3 separate regions of the Homo sapiens genome follow, and regions 2 and 3 are each linked to region 1. The links come from fine-mapping of genetic effects on gene expression. A gene starts in region 1. Each other region holds a variant in brackets. All regions are shown on one strand. Distances are between the middles of the regions. Region 1 holds the start of NAAA (N-acylethanolamine acid amidase). Region 2 overlaps NAAA (N-acylethanolamine acid amidase). Region 3 overlaps PPEF2 (protein phosphatase with EF-hand domain 2).

What was found. PIP is the estimated chance that this variant, and not a neighbour inherited with it, causes the effect.
Region 2: its variant is the best candidate, but not a certain one, in a credible set for the expression of NAAA in monocytes after interferon gamma (Fairfax 2014, PIP 0.60).
Region 3: its variant is the best candidate, but not a certain one, in a credible set for the expression of NAAA in monocytes after LPS (Fairfax 2014, PIP 0.63).

Annotation. Positions count from the first base shown.
Region 1 is chr4:75,939,404-75,943,642 of GRCh38, forward strand. NAAA (N-acylethanolamine acid amidase) reads right to left here and starts at 1,610. Exons shown (of 11, transcript NM_014435.4): 1 at 1,341-1,610; 2 at 598-762. The coding sequence starts at 1,546. RefSeq lists silencers at 893-962, 1,363-1,832.
Region 2 is chr4:75,909,975-75,914,213 of GRCh38, forward strand. NAAA (N-acylethanolamine acid amidase) reads right to left here. Exons shown (of 11, transcript NM_014435.4): 11 at 3,686-4,239. Among named protein-coding and RNA genes, the nearest start is that of PPEF2, 9.6 kb to the left of the region's middle. RefSeq lists an enhancer at 1-542. The variant T/C (reference allele first, on the strand shown) is at 1,729.
Region 3 is chr4:75,892,883-75,897,121 of GRCh38, forward strand. It overlaps PPEF2 (protein phosphatase with EF-hand domain 2), which reads right to left. Exons shown (of 17, transcript NM_006239.3): 2 at 3,389-3,501. The coding sequence starts at 3,443. Among named protein-coding and RNA genes, the nearest start is that of PPEF2, 7.4 kb to the right of the region's middle. The variant A/ATTT (reference allele first, on the strand shown) is at 2,245.

The sequences.
Region 1 (4,239 bases):
TTTGAGCAGAATTTTTTTTTTTTTTTTTTTGAGACAGAGTCTCGCACTGTCGCCAGGGCTGGTGTGCAGTGGCGCGATCGCGGCTCGCTGCAACCTCCGCCTCCCGGGTTCAAGTGATTCTCCTGCCTCAACCTCCTAAGTAGCTGGGATTACAGGCGCCCACCACCACGCCTGGCTAATTTTTTGTGTTTTTCGTAGAGACGGGGTTTCACTATGTTGGCCAGGCTGATCTCGAACTCCTAACCTCGTGATCTGCCCACCTTGGCCTCCCAAAGTGCTGGGATTACAGGTGTGAGCCAACGCGCCCGGCCTTTGAGCAGAATTTTAAAAGTACGCTACCTGGATTGGGGAAGAGAAAACCCGGGGCTACACGTAGAGGGAAAGTTTAGTGTTGAATCGGAGAATCTGCTTTCCCTCTCGAAGCCTACGATGTGCAGCTCAGATTTACCCAGAGAGGCAAAGAGGAAGCGCTGGAGGTTTCTAGGCAAGCAGGCACCGCCCTGTTTTTATCACACGGAAAATATGTCTCCTCCCGCTAGTCTGTGTCGGGGGCCCCCGCAAGCCCCGCGTTACTCCGCGCGGGCTTGGGGCACTCACACGGAGGACTCGTAGGCCAGGTTGACCAGAAGGCAGTCCGCCAGGCTGAGGTTCATGAAGTCACACATGCCGCGGATCTCGCCGGTGAAGGGCTGGGGCAGGAAGCGCTCCAGCTCCAGGACCACTTTTCCGATTAACACGTGCACCCACTTGGGGACTCTGTCCCTAGAAACAAAAAGCACAAGGGCGTCTGACCCGCTCAGAGGTCGGCGGCGTGCGACTGCGTGTGCACTGCGAGCGGGGCTACATCCTTAGGGCGTGAGGTCTCAGGGCCACTGCTCCCCAGTCAGTGGACCGCCCAGGCGCGGCGTCACTCAATCTGCAGCCTCCCGGGAGTGGGGGGAAGGGGGCGGGGGGAAGGCGGCGGGTAAGAAAACTCCGAATGGGGAGGGCGAGTGAGGCTGGTCCCAAAGGGGCAAGCTTGGAAGGCCCGCGAGGCCCGCAAGGAAGGCGCGGGTTGCCCCTCCTTGGTAGCTATGCAGCCCGGGCGACAACTCGCGCGCCACGCTGACCCGGAATGGCTCAAGGACTGGCGTGCCACGGGTGACACCGAACTTGAAAGCCGAACCTGCCGCGCTGGATTCTCCCCAACCCGGACGCTGCTCAGGGCGGCAGCCAAAACCAGTTCTCCAAGGGTGGCGGGGAGTAAAGCGTCCCCGTTTAAAGCACTCTGAGCAGCGCGCGTTTGACTCCGACCCGCAGGGCCGGTGTCCCCGCAGACCCCGTCCAGGGCCCCAGCTCACCCGATGACTTGCGCCATCGCGGCGCGCACCAAGTCCAAGTCGTAGTGCCGCAGCACGGGCAGCCAGCGCAGCTCGGGGACCGAGTCCAGGCTCACGTTGAAGCGCGGCGCTGCTGGGGGCGAGGCGGCTGACAGCCCGGCCCCGGCCAGCAGCAGCAGCAGCAGGGACGGAAGCCCCGGGCGCGCCTCCCGGTCCGCGGTCCGCATGGCTCGGGCTCCAGCGGCCGCAACTTGGAGACCTGCAGCCGCTGTCGGAGCCCGGGTAAGCCGTGGAGGAGGAGGAGCTGGGGCTGGGCTGCGATCGCTGGAGGTGGGGCCCGCGCACGACCCGCCCGCCCCTGTCACCGGCAAGCCGGAGCGGCGACACCTCCCGTCCCCGCCGCGCATCCACTAGCCCGCCCCGACTCTCCATCGGGCCTGGAGGTCCCTGACCGCGGGGCCGCTAAGGGTTGGGGCTGCCGGCAGCCGGCTTCTCACCAACTGCCGGTTCCAGCGCACCTGCTTGGGCCGAAGGAGTGTAGGCTGCGGCCGGGAGGGGCTGTAAGATTTTCAGTAGCGAAAAGGTGTCAGGAAAGACTTTTCAGTTAAACTTTGTTTGCTTGTTTGTTTGTTTGTTTGAGATGTAGTCTCACTCTATTGCCCAGGCTGGAGTGCGGCGGCGAGATATCCGCTCACTGCCAACTCCGCCTCCTGGGTTCAAGCGATTCTCCTGCCTCAGCCTCTCAAGTAGCTGGGATTACAGGCGTCCACCACCATACCTGGCTAATTTTTGTATTTTTGGTAGGGACAGGGTTTCACCATGTTGGCCAGACTAGTCTCGAATTCCTGACCTAAGGTGATCCACCGGCCTCAGCCTCCCAAAGTGCTGGGATTACAGGCGTGAGCCACCGCGCCTGGCTGGTAAAACATTTTTTTAAAGCTCAAAATTTAGTGAACATTTATCTGCTAAATATTTTTCGCGGACATTATCTCATTTAATCATCAAAACAAGCCAACAGGTAGGTTCCACTAATCCTCGCTTTACTGATGAGGAGTGTGAGGCTTGGAGAGGTGAAGCCATGTACCCGAGGTTACTCTGCTGGTGTGTCTCTGCACTGGCCTCCAAGTAAGGAGGTCTGAATCCACAATCCACCTTCACACCTAAGTTTCTTCACCTTTGAGTTCCCAATGTCTGGGAGACAAACTTAGGAAAATCTTAGTAAGGCTGGGACATTCTTAACGGTTAGCACAGTTGTCTGTGGGTAAAACAGGGTACATGTGTACATGAATAGTAGAAACTAAATGAAAGGGCCGGGCATGGTGGCTTAGGCTTGTAATCCCAGCAGTTTGGGGGGCTGAGGCGGGTGGATCACCTGAGGTCAGAAGTTTGAGACCAGCCTGGCCAACATGGTGAAACCCTGTCTCTACTAAAAATACAAAAATTAGCCGGGCGTGGTGGTGTAATCCCAGCTACTTGGGAGGCTGAACAGGAGAACCTCTTGAACCTGGGAGGCAGAGGTTGCAGTGAGCCGAGATTGTGCCAATGCACTCTAGCCTGAGTGACAAGAGCAAAACTTTGTCTCAAAAAAAAAAAAAAAAAAAAAAAAAAAAAAAAAAAAAAAAAAAAAAACTAAATGCATAGTAGAAACTAAACACATTTTTTTTTTATTTTTTACCAATTTTAGGATGAAGAAATACAACTTTTATAATCAATCACTTGTTTTTAAGGATAACACTTAAAGGAATTACAAAATTTCTTGCCAGACATGGTGGTTCACGCCTGTCATCCCAGCACGTTGGCTGGCTGATCATCTGAGGTCACTTGGTTTAATGAATAGAATCAGAATTGCTGGTGGTTGACTTCCAAGACTAGGTCACAAAAGACACTGTGGGTTTCTCCTTGCTCTCTTGAATTGCTCACTATAGGAAGCCCATTGTCATGTCCTGAGGAAGCCCTATGAAAATGTCCCTTTGTGGCTGGACACAAATCTCAGCACTTGGAGAGTCAGGCAGGAGGACTGCTTGAGCCCAGGAATTGGAGACCAGCCTGGGCAACAGTGAGACCCCATCTCTACAAACAAATAAAAATAAATTAGCCGGGCATGGGGGCATGTATCTTTAGTCCCAGCTACTTGGTAGGCTGAGGTAGGAGGATTACTTGAGCCCAGGAATTTGAGGCTGCAGTGAACTATGATCACGCCACTGTACTCCAGCCTAAATGACAAAGTGAGACCCTGTCTCCAAAAAAGAAGTAAATAAAATTGAAAAAAAAGAAAAAAGAAAGTCCCTTTGTTGAGGAACTGAGCTTCTACCAAGAGCCAGAGAGGAACTGAGGCTTCTTGTCAAGTCATCTGAGTGAGCCATGGTGGAAGTGGACCTTCCTGCCTCAGCTAAGCCACCCCCAAATTCCTAACCCATAGAAACTGTGAAGCAGGCCGGGCATGGTGTCTCACATCTGTAATCCCAGCACTTTGGGAGGCCGAGGCGGGCAGATCACTGGAGGTCAGGAGTTTGAGACCAGCCTGACCAACATGGTGAAACTCCGTCTCTACTAAAAATATAAAAATTAGCTGGGCGTGGTGGCGGGTGCCTGTAATCCTAGCTACTCGGGAGGCTGAGGCAGGAGAATTGCTTGAACCCAGGAGATGGAGGTTGCAGTGAGCCCAGATCGCACCACTGTACTCCAGCCTGGGTGACAGTGAGACTGTCCCCCCCCGCAAAAAAAAGAAACTGTGAAATAATGTTTATCACTTTATGCCACTAAGTTTTGAGGTAATTTGGTATGTGACAAACAGATCATTAATATAGATTTGTTTGGGAACGTAACTGTAGTGCTACCATAACACATGCCTAAAAATGTATTGCTTTGGAACTGGTAGTAGGGAGAAATTGTAATAATTTTGAGCAGAATGTTAGTGAGA
Region 2 (4,239 bases), 29 kb before region 1:
GTGATCTCAGCTCACTGCAACCTCCACCTTCCTGGTTCAAGCAATTCTCCTGCCTCAGCCTTCCAAGTAGCTGGGACTACAGGTGCGTGCCCAGCTAATTTTTGTATTTTTAGTAGAGACAGGGTTTCACCATATTGGCCAGGTTGGTCTCGAACTTCTGACCTTGTGATCCACCTGCCTCGGCCTCCCAAAGTGCTGGGATTATAGGCGTGAGCCACCACGCCCAGCCTTAAACAACATTTTTTTTAGAGACAAGGTCTTGCTATGTTGGCCAGGCTAGTCTCAAACTCCTGGGCTTAAGCACTCCTCAGCCTCCCGAGTAACTGGGATTACAGATGTGAGCAACTGTGCCTGTCTGTCTTCTTTTTAAAGGATGAATAATATTCCACTGTGTGTACATACCACATTTTCTTTATCCATTCATGCCTAGATGGACATTTAGATTGTTGATAAGAGTGTTACTTTCCTCCTGATATTGGAAGGACATCTTCCAAATGGAGATTTTATCTCTTGTTTTCAGGAAGAAAATGGGGAGGGTCAGAGTGAATTTCTTTTCCCTGCTGGTTTTGTAAGTGCCTTTAGCTCAAAATAGTCCTTATACCAAAGTGGCATATTTGGGGTAGTGTGTTCTGAGCTCCTTCAGCATACTTAAAGTTCAGGAGAAAAGACACAAGAGAATGTAGGTGAGCAATTCTGAGATAGCTGACTATTTTCCAAAATTGAACAAAAGACACAAACTTGAAATTTGGGGAGCACAACAAATCCCAAGCAGGCTTAAACAAAATTCAATATCTGGACACATTGTAGTTAAACCACGTGACACTGTTATCACTGTCACACACATCTGTGTGAAGAGACCACCAAATAGGCTTCATGTGAGCAATAAAGCTTTTTAATCACCTGGGTGCACGTGGGCTGAGTCCAAAAAAGGAGTCAGCAAAGGGTGGTAGGATTATCATTAGTTCTTATAGGTTTGGGATAGACGGTGGAGTTCGGAGCAATTTTTTGCAGGCAGGAAGTGGATCTTACAAAGTACATTCTCAAGGGCGGAGAGGATATTACAAAGTACCTTCTCAAGGGTGGGGAGGGTGTATCGTACAAAGTACATTCACAAGGGCGGGGGAATATCACAAAGTACATTATTGCAAGGGTGGGGAGGGTGTCTTGTCACAAAGTCAATTGATCAGTTAGGGTGGGGCAGGAACAAATCACAATGGTGAAATGTCATCAGTTAAGGCAGGAACTGGCTATTTTCTCTTCTTTTGTGGATCTTCAGTTGCTTCAGGCCATCTGGATGTATACGTGCAGGTCACAGGGCATATGATGGCTTAGCTTGGGCTCAGAGGCCTGACAATCACCTGATGGGTTCTTCTTGCTCACTGCACAGACAAAACCAATTCACTGAGATCATACTATTGCAGTAGAGAAAGAGTTCAATTAACAGTCCTAGCAGGAGCATGGATGTTATTACTCAAATCAGTCTCTCCAAGAACTCAGAGGCTAGGGTTTTAATGGATAATTTGGTGAGCTGGGGGCTAAGGAAGGGGGTTGCTGATTGGGGATGAAATTACAGGGGTATGGAAAACAGTCTTTATGCACTGAGTATGCCCTTTGGGTGAGGGCCACAGGACTAGTTGACTCATGGTCACAGGTCCTGGTGGGGTCCAGTGGTTGCCAGAATGCAAAAGTCTGAAAAACATCTCAAAAGACCAATCTTAGGTGCTATAG[T/C]AGTGATGTTCTCTACAGGAACAATTGGGGAAGTCACAAATCTTTGACTTCTAGCCACATGACTCCTGAGCAGTAAGGGATTATAGAAACTACGCCTACATTTAGCAGAATTCGGGTTCTTCCCATAATCCTAATCTCATAGCCTTCCATTAGTTTTACAAAGGTGGCTTTACTCCCTAGCAGGGCAGAGGTTAGTCTGAGGGTGGGGTTATTATCATCCTTTCTTTAAAGTTAAACTCTAAACTAAATTCCTCCCACGATTAGCTTGGTCTGTGCCCAGGAACGAGCAAGGACAGCCAGCCTGTGAGGCTAGAAGGAAGATGGAGTCAGCCATGCTAGACTTCTCTCACTGTCATCATCTTTGCAAAGGCGGTTTCAACAAAAAGGACAAATATCTGAAAAGCAACTAGAGTGTTGGATTACTTAAATCATTTTCCTGAGGAACAGCCCTCAATGCCTTCGCTTTGCCTGGTTAAAATTAGGGTATTCCCCAAATTTCCGAAGATCATGGCATATTTTCAAGAAAACAAAAATGGAATAAGACTAATAAGTAGAAATTTAGCCTGGCCAGGCTGGGCGCGGTGGCTCACGCCTGTAATCCCAGCACTTTGGGAGGCCAAGGAGGGCAGATCATGAGGTCAGGAGTTCGAGACCAGCCTGACCAACGTGGTGAAACCCTGTCTCTACTAAAAACACCAAAAATTAGCCGGGCATGGTGGCACACGCCTGTAATCCCAGCTACTCGGGAGGCTGAGGCAGTAGAATCGCTTGAACCCAGGAGGCGGAGGTTGCAGTGAGCCGAGATCGTGCCATCGCACTCCAGCCTGGGTGACAGAGGGAGACTCTGTCTGGAAAAAAAAAAAAAAAAAGAAATTTAGCCTGGCCAACATGGCAAAAGCCCATTTCTACTAAAAATACAGAATAAGCTGGGCATAGTGGCACATGCCGGTAATCTCAGCTACTCAGGAGGCTGAGACACAAGAATCGCTTGAACCCTGGAGGCAGAGTTTGCAGTGGGCCGAGATTGCACCACTGCACTCCAGTTTGGGTGGTGGAACAAGACCCTGTCTCAAAAAAAAAAAGACTAATGAGTAGAAATTTCTAGTTTCAATGGCTGTGTGATGTGTGATACAGCTGGCATGAGTAAACTACTTCTCATATTTGATTTTTAAAAGGGCATTGGATGATGAAAATTAAACGGTATTTATACGACACTGTCCAAGAAGAAACACGAATATTCTGGGCCACTAGAGACGTCTGCAGTATGTCAGGGGAGCGATGTTCTGTACCTGGATAACACTTCCTTCTAGACATTCTACTCACTATGCCAAAGGAAAAGTTAAGCCTGGGAACCGAGACACTCCAAAACTGCCTTCCTTTTGTTCCCAAACATAGCTGTAATTTCACACGGTTGCTTTATCTTATGTAAAATGTAGATTTACTGAGCACGAGATAAATGCATCATTGACTTTCCCTCCATTCCCTTGTTTTCATGTGCTAAATGTAGATTCACTGAGCACCAATAATAAGAGCTCACAAGAATGTAACCATTTGCCTCACTGTCTACCCTCTTTTTATCCCCCGCTCCTGCTTGCTCTTTCCCCTTTAAATACCGAAGTTCCTCAAACCCTCTTTGGGAAAAGCACAGGACAGGTCCTCCTGTGACTGGTGTTTCTTTTTCCCGGGCACATCCTTAGCCTTGGCAAAATAACTCTCTCATGGACTGAGTGCTGCTTCAGGCACATTTTCGTTTACACTTTTAACCTTTTCTGACTTCATCCTCAAGGACATTTCTTTCATGCACATGTGAAAAATCAAACTCTACCAAGCAGCTGTTCATTCCCTTGAATGCTGACACTTAAATAACATCACAACTAAGAGAGTTGCTTTCTCAGGACAGCAGTTCAGAACCATAAGACTTCGGAGGTAAAGAAAGCAGGGAGAGCATAACGCTAAGTTTCTTGGAAATTTTTTTATTCTCCTTGCCAACATTTCTTTTGACATTTTATTACTTAATTATGTGACATTAAGAAATAATTTGGTTGCATATTATTTTCAAAAAGCAGTAAGAAAGTAGCTATTGAGAAAGAAGGAGGGCCATAGGTTTTTCAATAAAACGTTAGAAACATTATAAAAAACGAGACTCCCATTACATGGAAACACATGATCAAAGATCAGACTAACACACATTCAAACAGGCTTGGTTCGAAATAGAGTTCTCCATTTCTTTCAGATGAGCCTTTTTTCTTAGGCTCTTTCAGAAGCACTTCACAATGAACAGAGGTCTTGCCAGCTCATTTCATTAGCGGAGAAGCAAAGGTATGATGGCAGAATCATGAGAAGATGGAAATAAGGCCTGAGGATATGGCTTGATCTCTGAGACCAATTATCTTTGAGTTATTCAGGCCAGGATAGAAGCTTAGAGAGGATCGAGGCAAACCATGAAGGGAAGGGAATGCAGGACAATGCCCATTACTGGCTTTACCACAAACTCCAAATCTCCTGGACCCA
Region 3 (4,239 bases), 47 kb before region 1:
TTTGTGGATAAAGCTGGATTAGAAATCCTGCAGGCTGGATTAGAAATCCTGCAGGCTGACTCAGGTCAACCTCATAAAGAGTAGACAGATTGATTTAATATGTTTCGTTTGCATTAGACAGATAATAGAATTCTTGCTGATTTCCCTAAGAGGAAAGATGATGGTGACATGGGAAAAGAGAAGCTGGGAGGAACTTAAACAAAGATAAATTTGATTTCCTATGAAAAAAATTCATACTACTAGTATTTCTCAAAGGCACTCACTAAATAGTAAGCGATGAGGTTGAACCCCACTGACTGACTTCTGTAAAACCATGTTCAGAATAGTGAATGAGGCTGGGCGTGGTGGCTCACACCTATAATCCTAACACTTTGGGAGGCTGAGGCTGGTGGATCACCTGAGGTGAGGAGTTCAAGACCAGCCTGGCCAATATGGTGAAACCTCATCTCTACTAAAAATACAAAAATTAGCTGGGCATGGTGGCAGGCATCTGTAATCCCAGCTACTTGGGAGCCTGAGGTAGGAGAATCATTTGAACCTGGGAGGCAGAGGTTGCAGTGAGCCGAGATCGTACCACTGCACTTTAGCCTGGGCTAGAGACTCTGACACACACACACACACACACACTCACACACAAAAGAGAATAGTGAATGAAAGGTCCAGGGCTGGTGCTACAGATTCTTTAGAGATTCCTGGTAAACATGCAGGTTGCTACACCTCACCCTGGACCTGTAACATCAGAATCTCTACCGCTGGAATCCAGGAAGGAATCTGAAGGTTTAACAAGCTCCATACATAATTCATACTTGTGCTAAAGTTTAAGGACCACTGAAGAAGATCATGGACATCAATGTTGTCTGCTAACACCTTGCCCTGAGCATTCTATGGCCAGTGCTGCCAATGATGAGACATACGTATTACATCCTCAGTCTTGCTTTGGCTACTCAGGCAGCAGAAGTGGGCAACACCTTTCATTCTCCCTCTTTTTTTCTTCCTCCCGGTTGACTATCTGGTAGGGTGTGGTGGGGAGCTGGCTTGCTTTCAATTGAGATGGGCTCTGGGAAGTGCAGGATCTTTTAATATCCTTTATCCCATCATGTATTTTTAATAGCACAATGCAAAAATGTATAGGCCCCTCTTACTTGGGCCATGTGTAAACTAAATTATTAGGGTACAAGTTACAAATACACCTGGGCTGTAAAAACTCTACATATAACAACACTGTGAGAAAATTGTGAACCAAGGCAATGCACAGTAGGGTATGGGAGAATAGGTAAATTATTTAAGAAAGATAGAACAGAGAATTTTTTTGATGGTTACCCTCTTATTTTTATTATCTTTGTCAAGAATATTTATGTCTCTATATACAACACTGATTTAAAGGAAAAAAATGATGCCTCTAGGAAGAAGTACCTTTCTGTAATGGAAGTATAAGCTTGCCAAAAGGTGCAATAAAAACTTAATGAATTATGACATCCCTTTAAGGAAAATAGAGAGCCTAATATCGACTTCCAATAAGAAATGGCATGCTTAAGCAGATGTAGGACTCCCTCACACTCCAACACATTAAGAAAAGCTGCATAAAATAAGCTAAATTTCTTTTTAACCAATAGTTGAAATCAAAAGCATTGAAGGGAGATCTCCGGGTGCCAGAAATGAAGACGGAACCCATAGCCAAAGGCAGTTAGAGGCACTGAAGTCAGGCAGGCCCCAGGGGAATCTCAACCAGACACATGTCTCAGGAGCTGGGGTTTAACACCTGTATGGGGATGAGAGTGAGTTCCTGGGTTCTGTGCATGGCAGGGAGTGGTAACTGGACTGTCTGTGAAAAGGCAGGAGCTGGGGAAGTTTCTGTACCTTGCGTGATCTAATAAATCTCTGCCTACCGGCCCCTGTGGTAGCAGGAGCTGAGCTGACCTAGAACTCAGTGAGATAGAAAGTCTCAGCCTGTGGCGTGTGTGGGTTGAATTCGTGTTATTCACAAGATAAGGAAACCCTGAGCTGAAGCTAATTCCAAAATTGGTCCAAACAAGTGACAAACTGGGAAAAAATATTTGCAATTTATATCACAGTTGATATCCCTACCATATTAGAAATGATTTCACTCGGTCACCCAGGCTGGAGGGCAGTGGCATGATCATAGCTCACTGTAGGCTTGAACTCCTGTGCTCAAGCAATCCTCCCACCTCAGGCTCCTGAGTGTCTAGGACTACAGAGGTGCTCGCCACCACACCCAGCTAATTA[A/ATTT]TTTTTTTTTTTTTTTTTTTGCTGGGCATGGTGGCTCACTTCTGTAATCCCAGCACTTTGGGAGGCCGAGGCGGGCAGATCACCTGAGGTCAGGAGTTCGAGACCAGCCTGGTCAACATGGTGAAGCCCCGTCTCTACTAAAAATTCAAAAAATTAGCCGGGCATGGTGGCACCCGCCTGTAATCCCAGCTACTTGGGAGGCTGAGGCAGGAGAATCGCTTGAACCCAGGAGGCGGAGGTTGCAGTGAGCCGAGATTGTGCCATTGCAATCCAGCCTGGGCCACAGAGGGAAACTCGGTCTCAAAAACAAAAAAAAATTTTTTAGGTTGGGCACGGTGGCTCACGCCTGTAATCCCAGCACTTTGGGAAGCCGAGGCAGGCGGATCACCTGAAGTGAGAGTTCAAGACAAGCCTGGTCAACATGGTGAAACCCAGTGTCTACAAAAAACACAAAAATTAGCCAGGCGTGGTCGCGGGCGCCTGAAATCCCAGCTACTCGGGAGGCTGAGGCAGGAGAATCGCTTGAACCCAGGAAGAGGAGTTTGCAGTGAGTAGAGATCGTGCCACTGCACTCCAGCCTGGGCGACAGAGCAAGACTCCGCCTCAAAAAAAAAAAATTTTTTTTTTGTAGAGATAGGATCCTTGATCTGTCGTCCAGGCTGGTTTCAAACTCCTGGGCCCAGGTGAGATTCTCTCATCTCAGCCTTCTAAAGTGCTGGGATTACAGGTGTGACCCACAACTCCTGGCCTATTGTTTTAAAAAAAAAATTGTTAGATTGGCCACTAGAGGGAGCTCATGCTTCCTTCTTCCCACCTCATGACCTTTGGACGTGCTCTACCCTCTGCCTGGAATGTGTTTCATCCCCTCTTTGCCCAACCTTATTTCATTCATTTGTACCTGGGTAGTTTGGGATCAACCCCAATGGACAACACTAACTTCCTGAGCGAATGTTAATTCTGTCAAATATACTTCAACTGGACATTTTGGTGGGCATGTCACAAGGAGGAGAAGCTGACCTCTAAGAGCTGGCCTGAGGAGAAATTTAAGGGTTTTTCTGCTTCTACCCTCAGAACCCCCAACCCTCTCCATGCAATATGGGCTTTGTGGTACCCACAGCTGGTTTGGAAAGTGGGAAACACGTACCTCTCTCTGCATTCTGGAAAGCAAAATGATGTTGGGTGGAGGTGCCGCTTCCCATAGTTTAAGCGCAATGCTCCTGCAGGACGCAGCAGATCCAGAGGACAGTGAGCTGTTTGCTGACAAAATGAAGAGAGAATCTGTAATAGGAGATGCAGGCAGAGTATTAAATCGGGTGGGCCAAATTGTCTATGAATCATGTGAGAGTATCCTCTCCACCTCTCCAGTCTAAGTGCACAAGATGTTCCTCCCCTGAGAGTTCCCTCCATTTGTCATTCCCTAGGTCTCCCGTTTTCAACCTTTCCACTGCCTTTTCCTTTCAGTCTAGAAACATACTGAAATCTCTTATTTTGCATTCTCAAAGCAATTCATCCGCCACCTCCTCCTCCCTTGACCTCCTATATTCCTCTAACTGTCACCCAACCTCTCTTGTCTTCTCATCCAGATTTATCTCAAGGGTAGACTACAGTTTTCTCTTTACTTCCTCTCAAAATCACCTTTTTCATCCTCACTATTGATCAAAGCCTTTCCTGATGCCTCTAATGTCTTCATCTTTTCAGTCCTTACCTTGCCAGAACAGCAAGGCCATCTGTCTCCATAGGCCACACCTTTCTTTCTTTCTTTCTTTCTTTTTTGAGACAGAGTCTTTCTCTGTCACCCAGGCTGGAGTAGTGCAGTGGCACAATCTTGGCTCCCTGCGAGCTCCGCCTCCTGGGTTCACGCCATTCTCACCCCCTCAGCCTCCCGGTTAATTTTGTTTTTGCATTTTTAGTAGAGACGGGGTTTCGCTGTGTTAGCCAGGATGGTCTCTATCTCCTGACCTTGTGATCCGCTTGCCTCGGCCTCCCAAAGTGCTG